Linked DNA regions of Homo sapiens. The protein of the gene in region 7 interacts with the protein of the main gene of each other region in a biochemical or structural test. Each region holds a gene or a part of one and is shown on either strand. Other genes may lie near its edges. The genes, in order: GOT1L1, KIF17, SLC45A4, RSBN1, RPS6KA3, MMP24 and HTRA4.

Evidence for each region.
Region 1: the proteins of HTRA4 (region 7) and GOT1L1 interact in a test that uses a peptide from one of them, tested with the Homo sapiens proteins (one large-scale study listed by IntAct).
Region 2: the proteins of HTRA4 (region 7) and KIF17 interact in a test that uses a peptide from one of them, tested with the Homo sapiens proteins (one large-scale study listed by IntAct).
Region 3: the proteins of HTRA4 (region 7) and SLC45A4 interact in a test that uses a peptide from one of them, tested with the Homo sapiens proteins (one large-scale study listed by IntAct).
Region 4: the proteins of HTRA4 (region 7) and RSBN1 interact in a test that uses a peptide from one of them, tested with the Homo sapiens proteins (one large-scale study listed by IntAct).
Region 5: the proteins of HTRA4 (region 7) and RPS6KA3 interact in a test that uses a peptide from one of them, tested with the Homo sapiens proteins (one large-scale study listed by IntAct).
Region 6: the proteins of HTRA4 (region 7) and MMP24 interact in a test that uses a peptide from one of them, tested with the Homo sapiens proteins (one large-scale study listed by IntAct).

What each region holds. Positions count from the first base shown.
Region 1 is NC_000008.11:37,937,325-37,941,623, forward strand, and holds the start of GOT1L1 (putative aspartate aminotransferase, cytoplasmic 2), read right to left. Parts: upstream 2,801-4,299; 5' UTR 2,706-2,800; coding exon 2,591-2,705; intron 1,558-2,590; coding exon 1,376-1,557; intron 426-1,375; coding exon 314-425; intron 63-313; coding exon 1-62.
Region 2 is NC_000001.11:20,711,508-20,715,007, forward strand, and holds part of KIF17 (kinesin-like protein KIF17), read right to left. Parts: intron 2,049-3,500; coding exon 1,947-2,048; intron 1-1,946. UniProt on the Homo sapiens protein: Dendrite-specific motor protein which, in association with the Apba1-containing complex (LIN-10-LIN-2-LIN-7 complex), transports vesicles containing N-methyl-D-aspartate (NMDA) receptor subunit NR2B along microtubules.
Region 3 is NC_000008.11:141,305,489-141,309,701, reverse strand, and holds the start of SLC45A4 (solute carrier family 45 member 4), read left to right. Parts: upstream 1-1,413; 5' UTR 1,414-1,606; intron 1,607-1,809; exon of another isoform or gene 1,810-2,562; intron 2,563-3,750; exon of another isoform or gene 3,751-3,837; intron 3,838-4,213. UniProt on the Homo sapiens protein: Proton-associated sucrose transporter. May be able to transport also glucose and fructose.
Region 4 is NC_000001.11:113,802,477-113,805,976, reverse strand, and holds part of RSBN1 (lysine-specific demethylase 9), read left to right. Parts: intron 1-3,500. UniProt on the Homo sapiens protein: Histone demethylase that specifically demethylates dimethylated 'Lys-20' of histone H4 (H4K20me2), thereby modulating chromosome architecture.
Region 5 is NC_000023.11:20,256,910-20,260,409, forward strand, and holds part of RPS6KA3 (ribosomal protein S6 kinase alpha-3), read right to left. Parts: intron 1-3,500. UniProt on the Homo sapiens protein: Serine/threonine-protein kinase that acts downstream of ERK (MAPK1/ERK2 and MAPK3/ERK1) signaling and mediates mitogenic and stress-induced activation of the transcription factors CREB1, ETV1/ER81 and NR4A1/NUR77, regulates translation through RPS6 and EIF4B phosphorylation, and mediates cellular proliferation, survival, and differentiation by modulating mTOR signaling and repressing pro-apoptotic function of BAD and DAPK1.
Region 6 is NC_000020.11:35,264,690-35,268,189, reverse strand, and holds part of MMP24 (matrix metalloproteinase-24 preproprotein), read right to left. Parts: intron 986-3,500; coding exon 771-985; intron 1-770. UniProt on the Homo sapiens protein: Metalloprotease that mediates cleavage of N-cadherin (CDH2) and acts as a regulator of neuro-immune interactions and neural stem cell quiescence.
Region 7 is NC_000008.11:38,977,228-38,980,727, reverse strand, and holds part of HTRA4 (serine protease HTRA4 precursor), read right to left. Parts: intron 2,776-3,500; coding exon 2,581-2,775; intron 1,514-2,580; coding exon 1,481-1,513; intron 770-1,480; coding exon of another isoform or gene 737-769; exon of another isoform or gene 243-736; intron 1-242. UniProt on the Homo sapiens protein: Serine protease.

The DNA.
Region 1 (4,299 bases), 1.0 Mb from region 7:
GTCCCAGACAGAGTATTCATAAACTGTAAAGCCCATGTCCTGGAAGACGAGTCCATGCAGTTCTGTGGGAACACAGCCCCCCACTAGCTGGTACATGGGAAACAGAGAGACGGAGACAGAGGTACTGGAGTGTGGGGCTGAGAGTCACTGGCTGAAGGTGGGACATTAACAGGAAAAGGACATAAATAGCTTGGCTTGTCTGCCATTTTGCTCATGACAGAGAATGAGGGATAACAGTGAAGATGGCAAATGGGGTGAGGATTAGGAACAAGGGACGGGGATTGCTGTTCCCCTCATCTTGGGTAAGACTAACCTTTTTGAGAAGAGATGATGTAAACTATACGAGCATCCTTATGCCAAGCTCTGAGAAACTGGACGCCAAGCTGGAAGGCACCACTGTCACCAACAGTGTGTACACCCCCTACCTGCCAGCAAGACATAGACACAAATAGGCCAGGTGTGGTGGCTCACACCTGTAATTCCAGCACTTTGGGAGGCTGGGGTGGGTGGATCACTCGAGGTCATGGCCAACATGTTGAAACCCCGTATCTACTAAAAATACAAAAATTAGCCGGATGTGGTGTTGGGCATGTGTAATCCCCGCTACTCAAGAGGCTGAGGCAGGAGAATCACTTGAACCCGGAAGGCGGAAGTTGCAGTGAGCGGAGATCAGGCCACTGCACTCCAGTCTGGGTGACAGAGTGAGACTCCGTCTCAAAAAAATAATAAGTAAATAAACATTAAAAAATAAAAAGAAATAGACAGAAATAACACTCTAAAACAGTAATGGAGGCGAGACGCAGTAGCTCATGCCTGTAATCCCAGCACTTTGGGAGGACGAGGCAGGGAATCCCCTGAGGCCAGGAGTTTGAGACCAGCCTGGCCAACATGGTGAAACCCTGTCTCTACAAAAAATACAAAAATTAGCTGGGCGTGATGGCACATGCCTGTGATTCCAGCTACTCAGGAGGATGCAGCACCAGAATTGCTTGAACCTGGGAGGTGGAGGTTGCAGTGAGCTGAGATGGCACCACTGCACTCTAGCCTGGGTGACAGAGTGAGACTCTGTCTCAAAAAATATATATAATAGGTTAAAAAATAAAACAGTAATGGGAATACTAACACCACCTCCAATTCAGATCATTCCTGTCTTGAAAGAGCTTTCAAATCAGCAGTGTGAGCAGGTGGGAATACCACTGGACTGAGATTCCGATCCTGACTCGATGGCTAAGGACTTGTGGACTCTCTGAGCCTCAGGTATCTCTTTTATCAATACCAGGGGGCCCTCCGAGGTCCCCTTCGGGTTTAAGGTTGTGCAGACCCAGATCGCCACTCTCTGTGTCTAAATGAGCCAGGGGAGGGCCCACCTTCTCACCCTGTTCTCCACAATGGCTTGGCTGTGCTTTCCAAAGAGGAGTGCTAGAGAGGCCTGGATGAATGATTTCAGGCCCATGGTGGGCAAGTACTCATAATTCAGGGAGGGATCCTGTGAAATCTGTAGTCGAGTCTTCTGCACCACGAGAGAAACCCAGGGATGGCCTTCATTTGTCATGCAGACTGTGAGGAAAACCACAGAGGGAGCTCCAGATGCCTGGTTTGGGCCCCCAGGGCTGAGCTCTGCAGACAGCCTGCAAACAAATCTCTCCTGGACTCCATGGGGCTGTGGGAAGGTGCCTGTGAAAATACAACTTTCCCTTTTCTTTTCTCCTTGATGAAAAGAATATGCTGTTAGTGAATGTGTATTATTTTTGTCTTTTTAAAAAAGACAACTGAAACCTATGCCATTTTAAAGGTTAAAAATTATACAAGCCCAGGATTGGTGGCTCAGGCCTGTAATCCCAGCACTTCGGGAGGCTAAGGTGGGTGGATCACTTGAGTTCAGGAGTTCAAGATCAGCCTGGGCAACATGATGAAACCCTGTCTCTACAAAAAAATACAAAACAGCCAGACATGGTGACCAGCGCCTGTAGTCCCAGCTACTCAGGAGGCTGAGGCAAGAGGATGGTTTGAGCCCAGGAGGCAAAGGTGGCAGTGAGCTGAGATCTTGCCACTGCACTTCAGCCTGGGCAACAGAGTGAGGCCCTGTCTCAAGAAAAAAAAAAAAAAAATATATATATATATATATATATATATATATATATATATATATGCAAAATGAGAGTTATAGGTAGATGAAGCTAAATAAAGGTAACCCTGACTTTCACAGTGGTGAGCCCCAGTTGCATAGCAGAAAGCTCAATCTGGAGAACCATTCTTGGTTCAAGAACAGGAAGAGAAAGAGAAAGAGAGAGAGAGGAGGTAAGAATCTGAAGAAGTGTGGGATGGCCATGCAGGCCCCCAAGCATAGAGTTGTGGAAGAGGACATAGCTCTCACCAAATCCCTAGAAGCCCCCAGAGAAGGGCAGAGAGCATGGAATGACCTGGGACCTTATCTGCACTTTTCCCCACTGGGTAATTCTGTTAACAAGAAAAGATCTCTCCACCCACAGAAGCTTGGGCTGCACCCCTCCCCCTGCAGCAGGGAACACTGTCCTCCTAGAGGCAGTTACCATCACTTAAGTCTTATACTTCAGAACTGCTAGGCATCTACCTCTATAGGCTAAGAATATCTTGTTCGGGTAATCATCTTGTTTGTAGGTCTTTAACAAGCTGCCCTCTAGCTTGTGGGCGAGGGGCACATCCATGAACACTGAAAGGGTGGGCATAACTGAAACGAAACTGGAGCCAAGACTATGTGTCTCTGCTCCTGTGTTCCGCTTCTGCCCAGAAGTCTTCCTCCAAGGCTGGGCCGGGCAGTCCTGCCTCTTCCTGGAACCTTGGCAGCCCCAGTGCAGAGGCGCTGGACAACGGGTTGCCAGGGCAACAGAACCTCATGATCTTTGTGGTGGCGATCCACAGGGGCCACAGGAACATTCCAGGGTACTTGAGGAGAATCCCCTCAGACAGCGGGCAGGGCAGGATAACAATCTCCGGAATTCCCAAGCCCGTTTCCCTCACTCAATGCCTTCTCTTCTCTAGCCCCAGGTGGCTCAGTCCAAAGTAACAAGCCCACTCCTTAGATGACAGGGCAAGGATAATGGGAGATTACTTAACAGATACAATGTACATTGTTGGGGTTATGGATACCCTAAAAGCCCTGACTTCACCACTATGCGATGTATGCATCTAACAAAATTACACTTGTACTTCACACATTTATACAAATTAAAAAAAAAAAAAAGAAAGAAAGACATAGGGCAAGGCAGGCAGCCAATAAGCCAGATAGGGCTTCTCCTGCAGAAGCAAAAACCCCAGATCACACACCAATGCAAGTCGAGGCATTGATTTCCATTTTGCAAAGTGCCCCAGATTTCAAAAGGAATAAAAAGCAAACACTGTTTTCTTCCACAGTTGTTTTAATAAAGAATCCTATTATTAGAATATAATTGGCAACTCACTAAGCCAGTCCTATTTCTCTCAGTTATCTAGAGCCAAGACTTCTACATATGTTTGTTAAGTTTCTTTTTCTTTCTTTTTTTGGTTTTTTTTTTTTTTGAGATGGAGTCTCACTTTGTCGATAGTCTCGAACTCCTTGCCTCAGGTGATCTGCCTGCCTTGGCCTCCCAAACTGCTGGGATTACAGGCATGAGCCACCACACCTGGCCATTTGTTAAGTTTCAATGACAGCCAACTAGTAAGTATAGACAGCAGAGGCCAAGGGGAGAAAAGAGCCAGCCTCTATAGAGTCAGTCTGCATATTGCTTGCTTTCTTTTCCTTTTGATGTTTAATGACTCTCTCTTTTTTTTTTTTTTTTTTTTTGAGACAGAGTCTCGCTCTTGCTGCCCACATTGGAGTGCAGTGGTGTGATCTCGGCTCACTGCAACCTCTGCTTCCCAGGTTCAAGAGATTCTCCTGCCTCAGCCTCCCGAGTAGCTGGGATTACAGGCATGCGCCACCACACCCAACTAATTTTGTATTTTTAGTAGAGAGGGGGATTTCTCCATGTTGATCAGGCTGGTCTCAAACTCCAGACCTCAGGTGATCTGCCCACCTGGGCCTCCCAAAGTGCTGGGATTACAGGCGTGAGTCACTGCGCCCGGCTTTTTTTTGTATTTTTAGTAGAGACAGGGTTTCACCACGTTGGCCAGACTGGTCTCAAACTCCTGACCTCAAGTGATCTGCCTACCTCAGCCTCCCAAAGTGTTAGGATTACAGGCATGAGCCACCACACCCAGCCTGATGTTAAATAACTCTTTAAATGATTGTTGCAAACACTGTTGATGTCTCACCCAGAAGGCCTTCACCACCAATGTGCCCGG
Region 2 (3,500 bases), on a different chromosome or scaffold from region 7:
GCAAGGATGAGAGAGGGGAGCATGGCAGGAATGTGTCCATCGCTGCCACGGGGAGGGGAGCCCTTGACACTTTGCCTGGACATGGGTGGGAAGAACCCGCTGGAGAGGCCCCCTCAGGCCTCACCAGATCAGGCAGTTCAGGGCTGGGTTCTGTGATGGTAGTTTACAGTGGCTAGGGGGAGGGGATAGAACTCTGCTTCCCCAAACCTCTTGCTGGCCTTAGGTGATGTAATAACCTCTGATTACAACCACGATCGGGCCTGTGTTAAGCACGGGTTAAGAGTGTGTGCTGTGGAGCCCCCGGGTTCAAATCCCATCGCCACTCTTTACTGACTGTGTGTCCTTGGGTTGGTCTTACTTAGGCACATGGAGCCTCAGTTTCCTCATCTGTTGTTACAAGGAATAGGAACGGTGCCTCCTCCTGGACTGCCAGGAGGTTTACATGAGAGCCATCTGCACATCCTCCACGAGGGAGCGTGTCTAAAGCCCGGTGACCTCTGGAGTGTGTTTCAGCAAGCGCATCTGTCACTGCAGCCCCCAAGGCAGCTGGTTCAATAGGCCTGAGACCCATGGCTCAGCTGCAGCAAGTGTGAGCAGCTGCCAGCCTTCGGCCCCTCTAGGCCCGGGTAACTGAGGCCTTTCTAGGGTCCAGGGTAGTGACGAAGGGGAGGAGGGCTCCCTGCTGCTCCAGTGCGGGTTAGCAGAAGGTTTGCAGGGGGCCAGAGTGCCCTAACTCCACAGGCTGGCCTTCTGGGGCTGACATGTGGGAGCAACACCCTCTGTTGCCTCCTGTCTCTGCTTCCCTGTCTGGGGGCTGAGCTATGATTCAGCTGCACTAGGAGAGGGAACGCAGTAGAAAAACTCTAGGTGGGAGGCTGGAGGCTCCTGCATAAAAAACACCAAGTGGCTGGGTGCATGTGGTGGTGCATGCCTGTAGTCCCAGCTACCGGGGGCGCTGAGGTGGAAGGCTCAAGGCCAGGAGTTCGAAGCCAGCTTGGGCAACGCAGCGAGACCTTGTCATATATATATCTATATTATAGATATTATCTATATTATATATATAGATAATATTATCTATATATATATCTATATATATCTATATATATATAATATAGATAATATCTATATATATAATATAGATAATATTATCTATATATAATATAGATAATATTATCTATATATAATATAGATAATATTATCTATATATAAAATTATATTATATCTATATATATTATATATATAAAATTATATTATATCTATATATAATATAGATAATATCTATATATAAATAGATAATATCTATATATATAATATAGATATTATCTATATTATAGATATAGATAATATTATCTATATTATAGATATTATCTATATATAATATAGATAATATTATCTATATTATATATATAATATATCTATATTATCTATAATATTATCTATATTATCTATATTATATATATATTATCTATATATAGATACTATATATAATATAGATATATATATTTTGAGACGGAGTCTCACTGTGTTGCCCAGGCTGGAGTGCAGTGGCACAATCTCAGCTCACTGCAACCTCTACCTCCTGGGTTCAAGTGATTCTCCTGCCTTAGCCTCCCCAGTAGCTGGGACTGTAGGCATGCACCACCACGCCCAGCTAGTTTTTGTATTTTTAGTAGAGATGGGTTTTCACCATGTTGGCCAGGCTGGTTTCGAACTCCTGACCTCAAGTGATCTGCCCACCTTGGCCTCCCAAAGTGTTAGGATTACGGGCAAGAGCCACTGCACCTGCCTAAAAAAGTTTTTTTTAATTAAAAAAAAAAAAAAAAGTCCCGACTCTAGCCTCCCAGTGCCGGCACCCTCAGGACACTTTCCCATATTTCTGAGGGAGCAGCACCAATGCCAACCTCCCCCCTACCAGCCCCACCTGCCCACAATGGGTCTGCACCCACCTCCAGCTTCTGCTTGGTGTCAGCCCCAAGGAGGTCCCGGACATCTTCATTGTAGATCTCCAGGTAGGAGGCCCGGACCAGGAACTTAGTGTTCTCTGCACACTGCAGGGAGTACACAGAAAGAACCTAGACCTCAGAGCTCGAAGTCCACCTGCTGCCAGGTCTGACCCTGGGGCCTGGGCCCTCTGCCACCAGGACATCATGGGAGGAGAAGGGACATCGGGGCAAGAGGAGTCTCCAACCCAACCCGCCCTGCTGGCCTTCCTGGCAAGCTCTCTCCTGTCTCCAGCTTGGTGGGCGCTCAGGCCTCTTTGAGTTGCATAATCTTCATATTGCTGTCTAATGCTCTGTCTACAAGCCTCATGGGAAAGGAAACAGAGGCCTCCTCGTTATTCAGGTTAAAAACAAAAACAAAAACAAACAAAAAACAAACAAAACAAAACAAAAAAAACAGGGCGGGGCGCTGCTCATGCCTGTAATCCCAGCACTTTCGGAGGCCTAGGTGGTTGGATCACCTGAGGTCAGGAGTTCGAGACCAGCCTGACCAACAAGGTGAAACCCCCGTCTCTACTAAAAATACAAAAATTAGCTAGGCCAAGCGCGGTGGCTCACGCCTGCAATCCCAGCACTTTGGGAGGCCAAGGCAGGCACATCACAAGGTCAGGAGATCGAGATCATCCTGGCTAACACGGTGAAACCCTGTCGCTACTAAAAATACAAAAAATTAGCCAGGCATGGTGGTGGGTGCCTGTAGTCCCAGCTACTCAGGAGGCTGAGGCAGGAGAATGGCGTGAACCCAGGAGGCGGAGCTTGCAGTGAGCTGAGATCACGCCACTGCACTCCAGCCTGGACAACAGAGCGAGACTCCGTCTCAAAAAAAAAAAAAATTAGCTGCGCATGGTGGTGGACACCTGTAATCCCAGCTACTCAGGAGGCTGAGGCATGAGAATTGCTCGAACCCGGGAGGCAGAGGTTGCAGTGAGCCAAGATCGCGCCATTGCACTCCAGCCTGGGCGAAAGAGCAAGACTCCGTCTCAAAAACAAAAACAAAAACAAACAAAGAAAAAGTGCGGTGGCTGACACCTGTAATCCCAACACTTTGGGAGGCCGAGGCCAATGAATCACCTGAGACCAGGAGTTCAAGACCAACCTGGCCAACATGGCGAAACTCCATCTCTACTAAAAGTACAAAAATTAGCCAGGTGTGGTGATGGGCGCCTGTAATCCCAGCTACTCGGGAAGCTGAGGCAGGAGAATTGCTTGAATCTGGGAGGCAGAGGTTGCAGTGAGCCAAGGTCATGCCATTGTACTCCAGCCTGGGTGACAGAGCAAGACTCCGTCTCAAAAAAAAAAAAAAAAAAACACCTGAGGCCACAGGGAAGGCCTGGGCCAAGCACTGGCTCTGGGCTGGTCCCTGGCAGCTCTCCAAGGCCCTACATGTTGCTGTGGCCACCATGATGAGTCCTGAGAGTGGCACAGTGGGTTCTGCAGCTGATCAGGGTTGTCCCCATCCGCCATTCCCCGTGCACTGCCACAAATGGTCGCCAGGTAATT
Region 3 (4,213 bases), about 100 Mb from region 7:
ATTATTCACTGTCATTGCTGTCATTCCACTGTGTGAATATATCACAATTTATGTATCCATTTAACGGCTGATGAGCATTTCAGTAGTTTCCAGTTTGGGGCAATTATAAACACTGCTGCTATCAACAGAAACACAATGTTAGGTGTGTATCTAGGAGCAGAATTGCTGGGTAATCAAGGCCTTTCAAAAAGATTTTGAAAGTTGTACCACTTTGCATGTCCACCAACAGTGTCTGGCAGTTCCAGTTGCTCCATTTCCTTGTCAACACTTGATATGGTCAGATTTTCCCATTTCCGATGCTCTTGGAGGCTCTGCTCTGCACTTCACTTCTAAATTCCTTTAGCAACAGGTGAGATGGATCTTACGATTTCTATTTTACAGATGAGGACGCCAAGGTTCTGAGAAATGAAGTAATTCCTCCAAAGCAACTTAAACCCTGGCAAGGGTGCAGGGCTGCGACGTTAACAGGGTTGGCCTCAGCCCATCACATCTGTCTGTTAAAGCCGCCTCCCCAGACCTTGTCTTGATGGGGTTTCCCAGCAGTCCTGCCCTAGGGATTGTGGCCCTTCTACACGTGGGGAGAGACGGATCAGTGTCCCTGGCCAGGGCCAAGCCTGAGAGGGAGGCCCAGCCTCCAGGAAGCTCCGGGTCGGGTCTTCGTCCTGCCCCGCTCTCCAGGTTGGAGAGGGGACCCGCAGAGCGCGGGGCGTTGGGGGAGTTGGGGACGGGGGCGTGGTCCGGGACCAGGTAGGAGGTCTTCGGAGGGTGGCAGGGAGGGGAAAACAGGAGAGTTTTCTCCTGCAGCGGAGGAGGGGCTGCAGCACCTGGATGGGGCCCATGTCGCCGCGCCACGGGCAGGGGCGGAGGGGGCGGGAGGGTGCTTGCCAAGGGGCTGGGCTGCCGGGGGCCGGGGCCTCGTGGCTAGCCGGACCCCTCTGCGACAGAGTGGCGAGAGGAGCGGGGAGAGAAGGTGGGGACAGGCGGGGGCCACCTCCTGCGGCTGCAGAGAGGGATGGGGTGGATTGCGGGCCAGCGCTTTAGGGGAGAGAGGGCGGACGCTCGGTGCGGAGGGGCCGGGGCCGGGGCCGGGGCCGGGGGCGTAGCGGGAGGAGGGCGGGGGCGGGGCTGGATTATGGCTGGGGGCGGGGCCATGGCGAGACGGGGGCGGGAGCCACGGTGCGCGCGGGGGCGGGGCAGGGGCGCGGCGGGGGCGGGGCGGCCGTTCGGGGGCGGGGTGGGCGGCAGCGGAGGCCAATGAGCGCGCGCGGCGCAGACCCCGCCCCCCGAATCCCCGTCCCGCGGCGGCGGGTGCTGCATAGTCATGAGGCGCAGGGGCCGGCGCTGCGTCAGCGGAAGCGGCGCGGAGCGGCTGTTTCCGACCCGATAAAGCGGCGTTGTCTCCGCGCGCCGGCCGCAGCCTCGCAGCGCTCTCTCCGCGCCCGCGTCGCTGACTGACCGCCCGGCCGGCCGGCCGAGGGAGCAGCCCCCGCCCGGACCCGCAGCCGCCTCCCGACCCCGGTGCGCCCGGGGCTCCGCGCCCCCGTAGCCCCTGCCCGGCCCGGCCCGGCCGCCCCGCCGCCCCCGCGGCCCCGGCCGGAGGAGACAGGTGAGTGGCCTGCCGCCCGCAGCCGCCTGCCCCGCCGCCCCCTGCACCTCGCACCTGGGCGCCGGGCACCTGCAGCCTCCCCACCCCCACCTCCCGCACAGCCTCGGCCTCCAGGTCGGGTCCGCGCCGCAGCCCCAGCCCCGCACCTTCTCCGGGGGAGGGGACGTGCCCCCACCCGGCTTGCGCTGGCTCCTCAGGGCCCCCCAATTCCTTCCCGCCTCCTCTTTCCGGATTGCACCTGCCCTGGTCCCCAGCCCTGCAGCCTCCCTCATTCCCCCCACCCCGGCCCCCACCCCGGGGCGCGCGCCTTCATTTGGACCCGGCCCGCTTTCGCACCCATCAGTCCTCCCCGCCCCCAGTTCCTCGGTTTCTCTACCCAGAGAGGAGCCTGGCGCCTCTAACTCCTGGTCCTGACCCTGTCTTGTCCTTCTAACCCCTGCCTGCTATCTCTAACTTATGAGAATTCAACCAGCGATACACCACTCGCGAAGTGGCCCCCTCTCCCCTCTGTCTGGACCGGTCCTCCCAACCGAACACACTCCCTTCTTCCCCTTCTTCCCCTTCCCTTCTTCCCCTCCTTTCCCTCTGCCCAGTGCACACACGACCCTGGCAGCACTGCTAGCCAGTGTCCCCCGCCTCGGACCCCCAGCCTGCACCGCCAGACTGTGGCTCTGCCCCGGTCTCATCGGCACTGCGCTCCCTTGTGTCCCTTTGAAGATACCTTGATTTCCTGAGACCGACCTTGTCCCTGGAGGAAAGAGGCCAGGGCATCAGTTCATCCGGGCCCAGATTCCCTGCTCTGTAGAAGTCCCCGCACCTTCTGCGTCTCAGCACCCGCTGCCCCTTTCCCCTTTGCGCTTAACCCGTTCCTCCCCCAGGTATCCTGCTCTGGATTGGAGCACTTCCAGCAGCGGCTTTTCCAGCGGAGGCGGATCCACACGGGGCCCAGCCTCCTGGTTAGCTATTCAGAATGATTCTAGAAGGCGGGGGCTAGGGAGGGCTGGGAAGGGCCGCTTGACCTCCTAAGGAGCCTGAGGTGTTTGTGTCTCTCCAGTGCGGGTCACTGATGGAGTGTGGCTTCAGGTTCACAGACCTAGCCACTGACCCCCATCTGATACCTCAGCTGACTCCAGCAAAACAGGGCTTGTCGTTTTTATTACTGTTTTGGGGGCTGTCTTTTCCAGTCTATGACCCGGAGCGAGGAGGGTTTACCAGATGAGTGATTGAACTAATTGTTGTGGGGTCAGATGATTCTTGTGGGCTGGTAGATTCTGAATCGAAGCCCATTTCTGCTGGGGAAAAGCCACTGCATCTGCCCAGCATTACTGAGAGCGCCCTGCGCTTCCATTCCCCAGACGGTCTCATCCTTCCTGTGTCATTGGCAGACAGGTAGAATGTGGTAGGAATCTTATCCTTCTGTTATTTTGTGCTGGCTTTAGGAAAAAATAAGAAAACAAAAAGCTGGAGTATTGGTGTACAGGTTAGGGAGTGTAACACATGGGGATCAGAGCAGGTAACACACACTGTCCTTAAAAGAAATGTATAGTGTCCTCACTTTTCTGCTAGGTTTGAATTATTGTTAAAAGAACGAGCAGAGATTATTTAAATGCTTGGGAGAGGTTTTGCAGAAGCCACTTGATGAGAAGAGGCAGCCCTGCAGGTTCCGGGTGGAGGAGACTCAGGCGCAGTAAAGAACTCATGTGTTTCTAGAGAGAGGCTGGGGAACTAGGTCGTCTTACACATCAAGGATTTCACACCCGTTCAGGCTAATTGTTTTTGTGGCAGTGGCTGTAAAGGAAAGAAGCAAATCGTTTGAAATGTGTTTGAAATACACACTGGGTATTTAAAGGTGTGTTTTTTTGGCCCAGGTGTTCACAGGGCGGGGAGTGGGGAGGCTGCCCAGGGCCACCTCCCGGGCCTCGTGGGGGGAGTGGCCTGCTGCCCTGCCGAGATGCGTGCTGCAGCTTTGGCCCTTGTCGCATCGTGAAAGCAGATCAGAGATTGGACTGGGTGAGCTCCAAGGTGTGTGTCTTGCAGCTTGTAACACCCTCTAACTTTGCTTATTGGAGGGGGGTGGGGGAGGGGCGGAGCAAGCCTGTAAACCGGATTCTGCCTCCTTTCCGTGAGCTCTGAGATCCCGCCCCAGCCCGCCCCGCAGATCTGCAGGGAAGGAGAGGGCTGCGGCAGCGGCAGCTCCCCACTTTCCCGATGGAGGAAAGGAGCCGAGGAAGGTATTTCAGCCAATCTTGAGGTTGCTTGGTGGTGAATGGATTGTATCTGTGTTGTCAGGAGAGAGGTGGGGAGGACAGAGGAGTGCAGCGCAGGGGTTCGGGCTGTGATTGTCGTTCTGACCGTGGTGCATCCCAGTGCCCTCTCCCGCTCTTCCCGAGGGTCCTGACGCCCAGTGGCTGGCTGGGGTGGTTTGTGACCAACAGCCTTGTGGCCTGGCACCGAGTGAGGGTGACTGACAAGCACTGTAGGTGGCAGACAACCCCAAATTGCCAGTGCCCTTCTTGGGAACACCCCTGGCAGAGTCGTGTCTGTAATTTGTGGAGGCAGAATATGCTGGAAGCCGCGTTCCTGCTAATGATGGGTGAGGACTGTTCC
Region 4 (3,500 bases), on a different chromosome or scaffold from region 7:
AAGCTTTATTGGAATATAGCTCTGTTCATTCATATATATTGTCTATGGTAGTTTTTGCACTACAGTAGCAGAATACAGTAATTGAGACAGAGACCATAAGACCTGCAAAGCCTGCTGTTCGGCTCTTTAGAGAAGTTTGCCACCCTTGAGTTCACTTAAGAGACATGTTCCTTCCTGCACAGCAGTTCAACAGTATTTAATCTGAATTCATGTGGAGACTAATTACAAATTATTACAATCTCAGACATTTGGAGTTGTTCATAAACAGTTGAAACAAAAATTTAATCTGTAAATGCTAGGGTAAACTTGTTCATCTTTAAAACAGAAAGAAGTGATTTTCAGAGAGATGAAGTGAAATGCTTAAAATTTTTTAGTTGGTGATAGAGCTGAATACAGAACTCAATTTTTTTCCCTCATGGCCCAGTTGACCTCTCTTTCTGCTATGCACACTGGGGTTGATTATTTAACAGAGATATTTAAATGCTGTTTTTATTTCTTATAGGGAATAAGCTTGAGTGTAACTAAACTGGAGGTTACCTATGTGTTTTGAAATCTTAATTTTTTTCTCTCCCTCTTATTGCTCATAAAAACATAGGACAGGCCGGGCGCGGTGGCTCATGCCTGTATTCCCAGACCAAGGTGGGCAAATCACGAGGTCGGGAGTTTGACACCAGCCTAGTCAACATGGTGAAACCCTGTCTCTACGAAAAATACAAAAAATTAGCTGGGCTACTTGGGAGGCTGAGGCAGGAGAATCACTTGAACCTGGAAGGCGGAGGTTGCACTGAGCTGAGATTGCGCCACTTGCATTCCAGCCTGGTCGACAGAGTCAGACTCCGTTTCAAAAAAAAAAATAGGACAAACATACTTCCTTAAAAATCCATGAAAAGAAGTAATGCTTCTTTTTAATTATTCTTAGTAAATTCATGATTTTAATATGTTGTTAAAAAGGAAAGAAAGGAAGGACAGCCCCCATAGGCTGTCTTCTCCAATGTCATTACATGACCGGATTGCTCATATGTATGCTCTTGTGAGTCATCTTTCTTATCTCATTTTTTTTTTTTTTTTTACTCTTGACCAGTTGCCTAACTGCTATCACCGAGTGTAAGTGTTCCTGAGCCAGATGTTTAATGGAAATTTTCTCTCATGTCAAAAAGCAGGGATTTTAAGTCCAGAAACACTTCTTTTTGATGTTAGCAATGGAGAATTATTGGGATTATAAGGGAATTGAAATAAACAATCTTATTTATCAGAACAACAACTGTAGGGACTAATATTTTTCCCTGCTCACCCTGAGAGAGGCAAAAACACCTTTAAGGGCACGAAAACTTTTGAAATGGCACTAAGTAAGATATTTGTTGAAGTAATACTCCCTTTATTCCAAGCTACCTCAGGTCCATTAATTGTAACCAGATAATCTTAGTTGATCATCTAATGGGAGTGTTGCAGGGAGATGTCTGATAGTGGAGGCGGAAAGGAAGAGAGTGTAGGGTGCAGTATGTTAGAAGAATTTGTTTTGGAGTCAGATAGGTGAGAAGTTTGAATCTTGGCTGTTGTGTACTAGCTTTGTGACCTAATATAAATTACATATCTTGTTTCAGGCTGTTTCTTTCTCCGTACTTCATTGGTTTGAGGATTAAAATAAAATAACATATATGGTCCCTATTAGACATTTGGCAAATACGTTTTCTTTCCTCTTTCAGAGATCTTTCTTATGTGTTTCTCTTGATAATCAAGATGATAAGAGACTTATTGTGTGTCACATATTGTGATGAGGGCCTTATAGTCATTGTCTCATTTAATTCTTAAAATAACTCTGTGAGATAGACTCTAGAATTAATAACTTTTTTTTTTTTCTGAGACGGGGTTGCCCAGGCTGGAGTGTAGTGAAGTGATTATAGCTCACTGTAACCTCGAACTCCTGGGCTCAAGCGATCCTCCCACCTCAGCCTGTAGCTAAGCCTAGCTCACTCCTGCAGCTAGGACTACAGGCATGCACCGCCAAGCCCAGCTAACTTTTTTTTTTTTTTTTTTTTTGTAAAAATGGGGTCCTGCTGTGTTGCTCAGGCTGGTCTTGAATTCCTGGACTCTAGCAGTCTTCCTGCCTCAGTCTCCCAAAGTGCTGGGATTACAGGCATGAGGCACTGTACCTGGCCTATTATAACATTTTAAGATGAGAAAATTTAGATTTAAAGAGATTTATGAGCTTACCCAGAGACCTTAGTAAACAATAGAGCTGGGACATTGACTTAGGTCTATCTAACAGTACAGCACCTGTTCTTATCTTAAATAGTACACTCTACTGCCTCTAGAATTCAACTGTTTTTGGCAATAATAGTAGTTATGATGTATTGAGTATTTATTATGTTCTAGGACTATTATAAGTACTTCACATGCGTTTTTCATTTACTCTGCACACTAATTTTATAATGAGATACTGTTCTTTCCTCCGGTTTTACCAATGAGAAGCAGTGCAAAGAATTAACTTGCAAAAAGATATGCTATCTCATTCATTATTGTTGGGAATACAAAATGATACAGCCACTTTGGAAGACAGTTTGGCAGTTTCTTAACAAAACTAAACATACTATACGATCCAGCAGTCATACTCTTTGATATTTACCCCGAGGAGCTGAAAATTTGTGTCCACACAAAAACCTGTAGATAGGTGTTCATAATAGGTTTATTCATAGTTACCAAAACTTGGAAGCAATCAAAATGTCCTTCAGTAGGTAAATGGATAAACTGTGGTACATCCAGACAGTAGAATATTATTCAGTGCTAAAAAGAAATGAGCTATCAAGCCATAAAAAGACATGGAGGAACCTTAAATGCATATTACCAAGTGGAAGAAGCCATCCTGAAAAGGCTGCACATTTTATGATTCCAATTATATGACACTCTGGAAAAGGCAAAACTATCAAGAAAGTTAAAAGATCAGTGGTTGCTAGGGGTTTTAGAGAGGGTTGCATGAATAGGCAGAGCACAGAGCATTTTATAGGACAGTGAAACTACTCTTTATGCAACTTAATTAATGGTGGATACATGTCATACATTTATCCAAACCCTCAGAATGTACAACAAGAGTGAACCTGAATGTAAACCATGGACTGCGGGCAGGCGAATAATGATGCATCAATGTAGACTTATCAGTTGTAACAAGTATTCCACTCTGGCTGGGGGTGATGATAATCAGGGAGACAGACTATGCATTTGTGGGAGCCAGGTGTGGTTATAGTTCTAGGAACCTGAAACTGCTCTAAAAAAAAAAAAGTAAAGGCTTAGGGAAAAAAAAGTTCTAGAAAGTATACTTCTAGAAAGTATACTAGAAAGTTATAGAACAGGGATTTAAACCTAGACAGCGCTCTTAAAACACCATAATATAGAGAGATGGTGGGTAAAGTAAGGCAGTGTTAAAAACATACAATGATTCACAAATGTTTGGCTTTCAAAATGAGTAGTTTTTTGTTTTTCCTTTTTAGTCAGGTATTTATATAGAA
Region 5 (3,500 bases), on a different chromosome or scaffold from region 7:
ACCTGGAACCTTTTTCCCCTGTAGCAGATTTCATTTAGACTGAGTCACTCACCTGGATGTTCTCAACTCAAACAGGGCTGTGTAGTGAAAAGTCATTAGAATTTGCAATCTGTGAGACTTGGGTTTGAATTCTGGCTCCTTCAGTTACTAGCTGGGCAACCATGAGCACGTTATTTAACCCTTCTAGGCTTCAGTTTCCTCATCTGTAAGTTGAGGATAATTCTGTATACTTCATTCAAGTTGATATACACAAAGTGACTTGTCAAGGGGGGCACTCAATAGACGTGAGCTTCCTTCCATCTTCACTTGGGAAAGAAAGAGCAGTGATCTTAACGTACCCCTCACCCTTGGTTTGTAGGTAGGAACATTCTGAAGTTGTTTTTGTAAACTAAGGACTGTATTTTCCAGACTTACGAGTTAAAATTAGCAGAGAGTAGAGAAAAAGTAATATTTGAACTTTTGTGCATTGTGGCTCTTTCAGAATTTGTATTTAAGATAGTTTACATAAAATTAAAGAGTTGTATTGATATGATGTGGATGACAAAATGAATTTTAGTGAAATAAATGTGCTGCACACGCCAACTCTGACTTTGTTAACATATCACCTGCAGCAGGTCTGCCTGAACAGGTCTCAATTTTCTTACATAAATAGGGTAGGGCTAAGTTGTTCTCTAAAATTATATGCTAAAAAAATTTAAATGCTTTCATATTTCAAAATGCACCAATCCACTTTTTCCGTTTTAACTAGCACAGTACAGTGAATGCAACACAATATTTAAACAAATTACCATACAGTAATTTATTTATCCAATAATATAGAAGATAATTGTATATTTTTCTCCCCAGAGACATTAGTCTTACTGTTTATGTCTCGGTCTGTAAGCTCGGTGCACAAGAGGAAACTTGTAATTACAACATTTTTTGATATTTAAATTTGCCCCAATGCTTTAGTGTTATCACTTGAATGAGATGTCACAGTAAAACTATTAAAGCTGTAGGAAGAGTAGAATGGTGATTTGTGGGGTATGTACCACCCTAGAGGGTTTATCAGAATCTTCAGGGTAGAAAAGGACAAAACTAACCTGATTAAACATAATTTGAAAAAGCATGTTAAATATTTGTTTTTAGAAAAGGTTTAGCCTATTAATTTCAAGATACAAATCATACAAGGTAGAAATGAAAAAACACTGGTGTAAAAAATGCATTCAATTTGTACTAATCCTGTAATCTGGAATTGTACTGTTCAACATGGTAGCCAATAGCCACTGGTGACTATTAGATAAAATTTAAAAGTTCACTTCCACACTAGCCACATTTCAAGTGCTCAACAGCCACATATAGATAGCAGCTACTGTACTAAACAGTGCTGATCCAGAAATTTTTTGTGATTTTAAGTAAATCTTTATTATTTTACATTATTTTCAGATAGATGCCTCTGTTCCTAAATGTGAAGAAATGAAGTAACATTCTAGGTAGCTGAGATTTTTGCCACAGGTTTTACAAGATTTCTGGAGTGAAGATTTATCCCAAACCACTGCACTTGAGATGCATTTCAATCTATTAATGTCAAAATGATCTTTTGCTTCAGGCTATCATTTGACATCTGCTTCTAACACATATCAAATGACTGAACCAAGTTTCCTAGGACAAGCTTTGTGGCCCAAAGAATTAGAGACAAGCTCACAGAAATCTAAATGACCAGGTCAGATTTGAAGATGAGATTATCACCATATGTAAGATTATAAAAATCAATTTATATGGTGGACAAAACAAGTTTTTAAGTTATATAAGAGACCATGGATATATTAGTTAAGATGGGAAAATTCGATTTAACTTATGGTTGTAATTCTACTATGACAAGAAATCTAAAAGTGCTTTTAGATTTACACCTACGTGTAGAGTAACAAATATTTAGGAAACTAGCACTACTTTATGAGAACAACAGAAAAGGACTCACAATGTGGAGATGTGACTCCAGGCAGGGCAGTAGGCTAGCTTTCAATTTAAAGCTGCCTGTTTTTTAGTTCATTCATGTTCTACTTTCTAGCTGACATCTTCAAGAGAGGAAGGTAAATATGCAGGGCAGGTAATGTCAGCAATTGAGCCATTCTGTTATGGTATGTAAAACATAAAATCACTATTTATTATTTGGTAATATGCCCAGCAAATACCCCTGACCCCAGAGGTATTTGTACATGATGAGCAGAGACCAGAAAAAGAGTGAGGATGCTATTTTACATTATTTGGAAACTGTAACTTTTTTATATTACTAATCCTAGCTATCTATTCTCTAGTAAGTGAAAACAAGAAGCAATTAATTTAAACAGGAAAATGGGAGAGAAAAGCAGATTAACAGTGGCATAAAGTGGCATATAAGAGAATTTTTAAACTACAAATATTAGACATAAGTTACAGAAACAGTCAAGGTACAGGCCATTTAGTAGGGGCAATTAGCTTGATATTAAGTAGAATATGACCATTAATTTTCAGAACAGTGAATCAAAAGTGTAAATTATTTTTAACTTTTATTTAAATTATTATTAAATTTATATTCACTATTAAGACGGAACATTTTTATACAATTTAATTTAGAAAGATTTCAATTCAAAATGAAACAAAACTCTTGACAGTTAAAGAAAACACTTCAATATAGTCAATTAAACATAACAGCTCATTTCCAGGCAATACTGGATCGCGTTACTGTAGTTATCAGACTTTCCAAAACTGTGTTCTGCAAAGCACTTTGTGTCCACTGAGACTTCAATAGATGGTTTACAAAAAAGGGGTTCTGACATCAAGTCTCAAATGCCGTGGGCCATATCCATTTTGCAGATTCATTGTATACAACATCTTAAAAGTTCTAAATTATACAGTAAAGACAGGTTAAATCTTATTTAATGCCACATTTCCCCAACTTACTTGATTATGCCACACTACCTTATTTTTTGGAGGGGGGTGATTCTTGAGGCATGGATACACCTTTTAACATCATATCTCCAGAGACTTTTCGGCTTGAAAAATACTATATATACTATTTAGAGTTCTGTAAGAACCAACACCACATTACAGACAAAATCTAAAGGATTACATTTCTAGACAGGAAAACCCAGTTACCCTATGGCATTTCGAAATAACTAAAACAAATGTATTTATAGTAATGGGGAAGGAGGTGTGACATATTAATTTCCTTCCCTAAAAATTAACAGAACGGATTCATCCTAAAATATAAAAAGGTGTGCACATTTTGTGTTGGTATGTTTTAGAAAGAAAGTTAAAATTCTACCTATTGATGCTATAAACTGACTTTAACCATTTCTTCAGGGACACATTATCTTCAAGAGGTAGACATACAGAATACACTATATTTCATTGATTAAAAGATACAATCAAGTGTAAGATACACTATTATTTTATATATTGTTAAGGAAAAACATGCTGCTAATTAAACTATGACATCCCATGGACTGTGAGACATCTTCCAATTTGAGCAATGTTAAAAA
Region 6 (3,500 bases), on a different chromosome or scaffold from region 7:
GTTATAATGTTCCAGATATTTTGGACCCAACGTAGGCTGAGTGACAGGCCACCGTAGCCCCAGAGCTCCCTGCGGGGGTGGCTGAGGCTGCCATGGGCCTCTGTTGCCACTTAACCTCTCCCTCTTCCCTGTCCTGCTTCCTTCTCCCCCTCACAAATGTTGATTCTGAAAGTACTCTCTAATCGAAATCCTGCATTCCAGACCCCACCTCAGAGTTCACTCCCCGAGAGCCCAACCTGCAACACGTCAAGCAGACTGCCACCCTGTCAGTCCATGGCTGATGGAGGACAGATGACAAGATATACCCTGGGCTGCTGCCAGTAGCAGCCCCTCAAGCCTTGGTAGGGTCTGGAGTCAGACTCAGCCACCACTGACCTAGCCCCTACTCCAAGTTGACCATCTTCAGAGCCGGGTACTCACTGGATCTTCACACACTCTTTGTTAGAGGAATGACTCCCCCAGGTTTCGGATGGAGAAACTGAGGTCCCAAGAAGGGTGGTCACAGACCAGAAGCCAGCTTCCAGCACTTTCTCCCAGCATTAACCCCAGGGGAGGTGAGGGATCACCCATCTTTCCCCCTCCCTCTTGGGAACAGTTGATTCACCCAGCAGCACTAGGAAGAGACCCCATGCCCTGGCCACTGGGCTAGCTCCTGTCCAGGCCCCATTGTAATCGAATCCCAAATCAGGAGCCTTCCCCAGCTCCATGATGTCGGGGAGGAGGAGGAAAGGTCAGGGGCCAGCTGGGTGGTGCCAATCCATTGGCCCTACCTTAAAGACAAACATCTCGCCCCGGAAGAGGGCCACTGTGTTGAAGTTGCCGTCACAGATGTTGGGTTTGGTGCCTGGTGTGGATGGCCGGTCCCCGAGGGGCGGCCGAGGGGGCCTGGGCTGGCGCTCGTGTTTCCTCTCCGATGGTGAGTGGATCCTGCGGACGGGGAGTGTAGGGAGTGGCCTTGTGGGCTCCAGAGGCTCGGCTGGGGGTCCTGGAGAGAGGAGCTGCATCTTAGAGAGGGGGCAGCCGTTTCCCGCCTCCCATTGCCAGTCTCAGCATCACCCAGGCAGCTCTGAGACAAGTCTGTCCCAGTTCAGCCTCCTGTTCCCTCTCCCCAGTTTAACTCCCCCAGTCTTTGAGAAAATGGATGAAAATAGCCATTAGAATGGGACTCTCATCTTTCCATCCCCGAATCTGGTATCTTCTCTTTTCTCTCTCCTGTTACAGAGCAATCATGTCCTTCCTTAGGGTCAGCGCTCTTCCTTAGGCCATACCCTCTTTGCCCCCTTCACACGCACTGGCCCCACTTCCTCACCCCCTTCATTTATTCTCTTTCCCACCCCAGTGCAGCTTCTACCCGTCACCCACTCCAACTGCTCTGCCAAGATCATCCAATGGTTACTTGACTCAGACTTTAATAAGCACATGCATCATCTGGGGATGTTGCTAAAATGCAGATGAGGGCTCAGAGGGCCTGGGGTGGGGCCTGAGAGTTTGCATTCCTTCACACTCTCAGGTGATGCTGATGCTGCTGGTCTGAAGACTACATTTTGAGCAGCAAGATTCATAGAAACACTTTCCTGGAAACACTCTCTTGGTTGTCCTCCTGCCTCATGGGCTGTTCTTTCTCAGTCTCCTTTGCTGGCTGCGTGTCCTCATCTGCCCTACTCTAGAGGCTGGCGTGCCCTTGGGTCCTCTTCTCTTCCGTCTCTACATTTTCATCCTTAGGTCAGTGCTTCTTCACTTGGGCTGCATATTAGGATCACCTTTGGGAGCTTTTCAAACTGGATGTTCAGGAAGCACCAGGCCAGCTCTCCAACTTTTTTTTTTTTTTTTTTTTTTTTGAGAAGGAGTCTCGCTCCGTCCCCCATGCTGGAGTGCAGTGGCGTGATCTAAGCTCACTGCAACCTCTGCCTCCCAGGTTCAAGTGATTCTCCTGCCTCATCCTCCCAAGTAGCTGGGACTACAGGCACGTACCACCACACCCAGGTGATTTTTTTTTTTTTTTTTTTTTTTTTTTAGCAGAGATGGGGTTTCACCATGTTGACCAGGCTGGTCTTGAACTCCTGACCTCAAGTGATCCACCCACCTTGGCCTCCCAAAGTGCTGGGATTACAGGCGTGAGCCACCACGCCCAATACCCAACTATTAATAAAACCAAATCTCTAGAGCTGAGGGCTGGGTGTCTGTGTTTTTTTATTAGAATCCCAAGGTAATTCCAAAGGGCAGCCAAGTTGAGAATCACTGCTCTAGGTGGTCTCATCCAGGCTCATGGCTTTACAGACCTGCATCAGAGCTGTCCAGTAGAGTGTTCTGTGATGATGGAAATGGTCCATATCTGCATCGTTCACTACAGTAGCCCCTAGCCACAGCCACATATGGCTACTGAGGTCTTAAGATGAATGACTAGTTCTTAGTGTGACTGAGACCCACTAAAGAACTATAACTGAAATGATAATTTTAATATATTTTTGGGGGGGTAGAGACAGGGGTCTCACTTTGTTGCCCAGGCTGGTCTTGAACTCCTGGCCTCAAGCAATCCTCCCACCTCGGCCTCCCAAAGCGCTAGGATTACAGGTTTGAGCCACCGCGCCCGGCCTAATAAATATAAATTTAAATTTCATTACTATGAAATTTAATACTAGTTTATTTAATAGTAGTTTATTTAATACATACTAGTGTATGACTAGTGGTTACTGTATTGAACAACAAAGATCCCAAATAAGTATTCCAGCCTAGATTTTTTTTTTTTTTGAGACGGAGTCTCACTCTGTCGCCTAGGCTGGAGTGCAGTGGTGTGATCTCAGCTCACTGCAACCTCCGCCTCCCGGGTTCAAGTGATTCTCCTGCCTCAGCCTCCCAAGTAGCTGGGATTATAGGCGTGCACCACCATGCCAGGCTAATTTTTTGTATTTTTAGTAGAGACAGGGTTTTGCCATGTTGGCCAGGCTAGACTTGAACTCCTGACCTCAGGTAATCGCCCGCCTCGGCCTCCAGCCTAGAATTTTGAGCTGCAGACTGGTGGACCCTATTGCTTCACAATTACAAAAGCTGGAAACCCTGGGGGCATCCTTGACCCTCCCTCCTTCCTCTCACCCCATGTCTGATCTGTCAGCAGATCCTGTTGTTCTACCTTTGGAATAGCTTCTGGGACCCACAGCCCCCACCTGGTCTCTGCTGCTTTACTTGTGGAGGTCCTGCCTGTCCTCCAGGGCTCTGGCTGGGTCATCTCCTCCAGAGGGAGCCCTCCTTCTGTGCTCCGTAGCCTGTGGGCTGTGGGTGCCTGTGCTGTCTTGACAAGCATTTGCTCAAGTAAACTGGTCTCCCTAGCTCACCTGACTTGACCAGAACAAGAACCTCACATACCAGTGTGAACAGAACTGGGAGAGAGGTGTGTAGGAGGCCTTTCATATCTTACCTAGATAGCAGTAGCTTCTCATCTTTCACCTTTTCTTTCTTTTTTTTTTTTTTTTTTTTTTTTTTTTTTTGAGACGGAGTCTCGCCCT
Region 7 (3,500 bases):
CTCACTGTGTTGCCCAGGCTGGAGTGCATTGGTGCAACCTTGGCTCATTGCAACCTCTGCCTCCCGGGTTCAAGCGATTCTCCTGCCTCAGCCTCCCAAGTAGCTGGGATTACAGGCGCATGCCACCATGCCCAGTTAATTTTTTTTTTTTTTTGTATGTTAGGTAGAGATGGGGTTTCACCATGTTGGCCAGGCTGGTTTTGAACTCCTGACCTCAGGTGATCCACCCACCTCAGACTCCCAAAGTGCTGGGATTACAGGAGTGAGCCACCGTACCCAGCCAGAAAAGAGATTTCTGATTGTGTTAAACTACAGATTGTAATTCAGTAGGTCGGGGGTATGGCCTGAAATTCTGCATTTCATCCCTGCTCTAGTAAACTCATTGTCTAATGGAGAAGGCAGGAACAAAACAAAGAAAAATGACATGCAATGCTATGAGTAAAAAAAAAAAAACAATCATTTTGCATAAAATTCATTCTAAAAGCAAATGTAATATTTAAACAGGAACCAAAAGCAATCAGTGCAAAGGGACTCAGAAAGGATGATCACATGCTATGTGTCAAACAGCATTGCACTCTCTTAGGTTTTCACATGTATTTGGGCAACTAGAAACCCTGACATTTCCACTAGAGACACGGAATACAATTTAAGAATACATGACACGGCAATGTATTTGAGAGGCCAAGGCAGGCAGCTCACTTGAAGTCAGGAGTGCTGGTTGTGGCTTTTCTCTCATCTATAAGCAGGTCAAGAGGTCAAGACTAAAAACCTGGACAGATGACATTATGTAATTAGCATTTTTAAATGAGAGATAGTTCTTCATATGCAGCATCAAGGAGTCTTCAAGGACCTACATTTCATAGCAAAGCTGGTCATTTGGCATAAACCTGGGTTTAATATCCAGGGCTTTTGGCACAGCATGGTGGCTCATGCCTGTAATCCTAACACTTTGGGAGGCCAAGGCAGGAGGATCACTTGAACTCAGGAGTTTGAGACCAGCCTGGGCAACATAGTGAGACATCGTCTCTATTAAATAAATAAATAAATAAATAAAATCCAGGGCTTTGGGTAACTAGCCAATGAAAACAGAAAGCACGGGGAAGAGAGAAATTTCAAAGGAAGCCGGAGCTAGAACCCTAGTGTTCTCAGTGGGATGAGATCACACACCAGGATAACAATCTTGAATTTTTTCTAACTATTGACTTAAGGTCCAAGAACAGAAAAGCACCATTCCACAGCTCTCTACACAAGAGTGGCACCCAAGTCTGCATCATGGAATATGTAAAGTCCTTTTTTGTTTTTGTTTTTGTAGATATGGTGTCTTGCTGTCTTGCCCAGGCTAGTCTCAAACTCCTGGCCCCAAGCAGTCATCCCAAATGTGCTGGGATTACAGGCATGAGCCACCACCCCTGGCCTGGAATTAATAAAGTCTTTGAAAGTTAAGAAGAAACATGAAGCAACAAGGAAAGTGATCACTTACCAAGTTCACCAGAGGACCACCAGAATTCCCATACTAAAAGCAGAATTTGAAAAAGACATCAGTGAAGCTAATGAATACATTCCCCCTTGTCCTTTACACATAGCTCCCAAAACAGTTTACCAAAAGCAGCCCACCAAGCTCCTATTCCCCCCAGGCCGGCAAAATTGTGCCCCTATCATCACCAATACCAAAGTCAGTGTAGGTAAAGAACTATAGCAGTGGGACCACCACCTTCATTTTTTTTTTTTTTTTTTGAGACGGAGTCTTACTCTGTTGCCCAGGCTGGAATGCAATGGCGCAATCTCGACTCACTGCAACCTCTGCCTCCCGGTTCAAGTGATTCTCCTGCCTCAGCCTGCTGAGTAGCTGGGATTACAGGCACCCGCCACCATGCCCAGCTAATTTTTGTATTTTTAGTAGAGACAGGGTTTCATCATGTTGGCCAGACTGGTCTCGAATGCCTGACCTCATGATCCACCCCCTTCGGCCTCCCAAAGTGCTGGGATTACAGGCATGAGCCACCGTGCCTGGCCAAGGGACCACCACCTTCTTACAGGAGGGGTGACCTCTACAACAGACCACCTAATAGCATGGATGCCAGCGATCACAGCGAACGAGACAGACTCTAACAAAGTGGCATTCCATTCCTCCCACAGTGATTCAACCAAACCTGGACATCCCCAAAGTTCACTCTGACATATTCTTCTCACTGAACTGCCAATATTGTGTGATCTGAGGAAAGGCCTCCTAAGTCAGCAATCCCCAAACTTTTTGGCACAGGGACCGGCTTTGTGGAAGACAATTTTTCCACAGACGGAGGGGTGGTTTGGGATGAAACTGCTCCACCTCAGATCATCGGGCATGAGTTAGATTCTATAAGGAACATGCAATCCAGATCCCTTGCATGCGCAGTTCACAATAGGGTTTGCACTCCTATGAGAATTTAATGCCGCCACTGATCTGACAGGAGGTGGAACTCGGGCAGTCATTCTCACTCGCCCATGGCTCACAGCCTGCTGTGCGGCCCAGTTCCTAACAGGCCATGGACCTGTACTGGTCCACAGCCCATGGGTTGGGCACCTCTGTCCTAAGTGACTTACATTAATTGTGGCATCAATCTGGACGTAGTCCATATCTGAATCCTTCATCCCCAGTTCTTTGCCCCCTCGCTGTTTGGTGCTGACAATTCCTGCAGTAGCTGTGTTCTGCAGAGAAAATGGGCTGCCCAAAGCCACCACAAACTCTCCAGCCCGAAGGTCAGATGATCTTCCCAGCATCAGTACAGGAAGTTCAGCCTGCACGTGCCCAAAAAGGGATGGGGAGGACAGAAAGGGTAAAGAACAAATCACGATCAGAATTGACCAAAGTGTGTGTCTAACACATATATGACGCTGTCTCTATCACCTTGGCCCTTACCACCTGAGAAGCACCCACTCACACAGCTTCTATGATTGCCTTCTACTTCTTCCTCAAAGTCCAACTACCATGAAGCTCTTGAGTGTTAAGATGACTAGGATCATTTCTAAGATCTAAAACAATTACTTTGTAGAAATTACTATTAGTAAACAGCCAGTGAAGTCACTGATGAACATAAACTGACATTAGGAATTTACACAGCACCATTCCAGCTCAAAGCTTAACAGTCAAAGTGAATAAGCCACAAACAGAAAGGAGATCACCCAGGGTGACACTTCTCACACTGTAATGTGCATGCAAATCACCTAGGGATGTTATGTTAATGCAGATTCTGAGTCAGCACATCTATCTGGGTAAAGGCTGAGACTCTGAACTTCTAAAAAGCTCTCAGACACCATGTCAATATATGTGATGTGCAGACTACCAGTACTATGTGTAGGAAGGACTTCAAAGTATTCCTTAGCAACTTTGAGTCCATCGCAGTAATTTCTGATATCCTAAGACAAGTAGAGAAATAATTTTCCCTGAAGCAGCATTTGTTGAAGGAGGAAAAAAAAAAAAAAAAGACTGCTTGATAGTTAATAGAAACAGTTAGAGGCCAAGC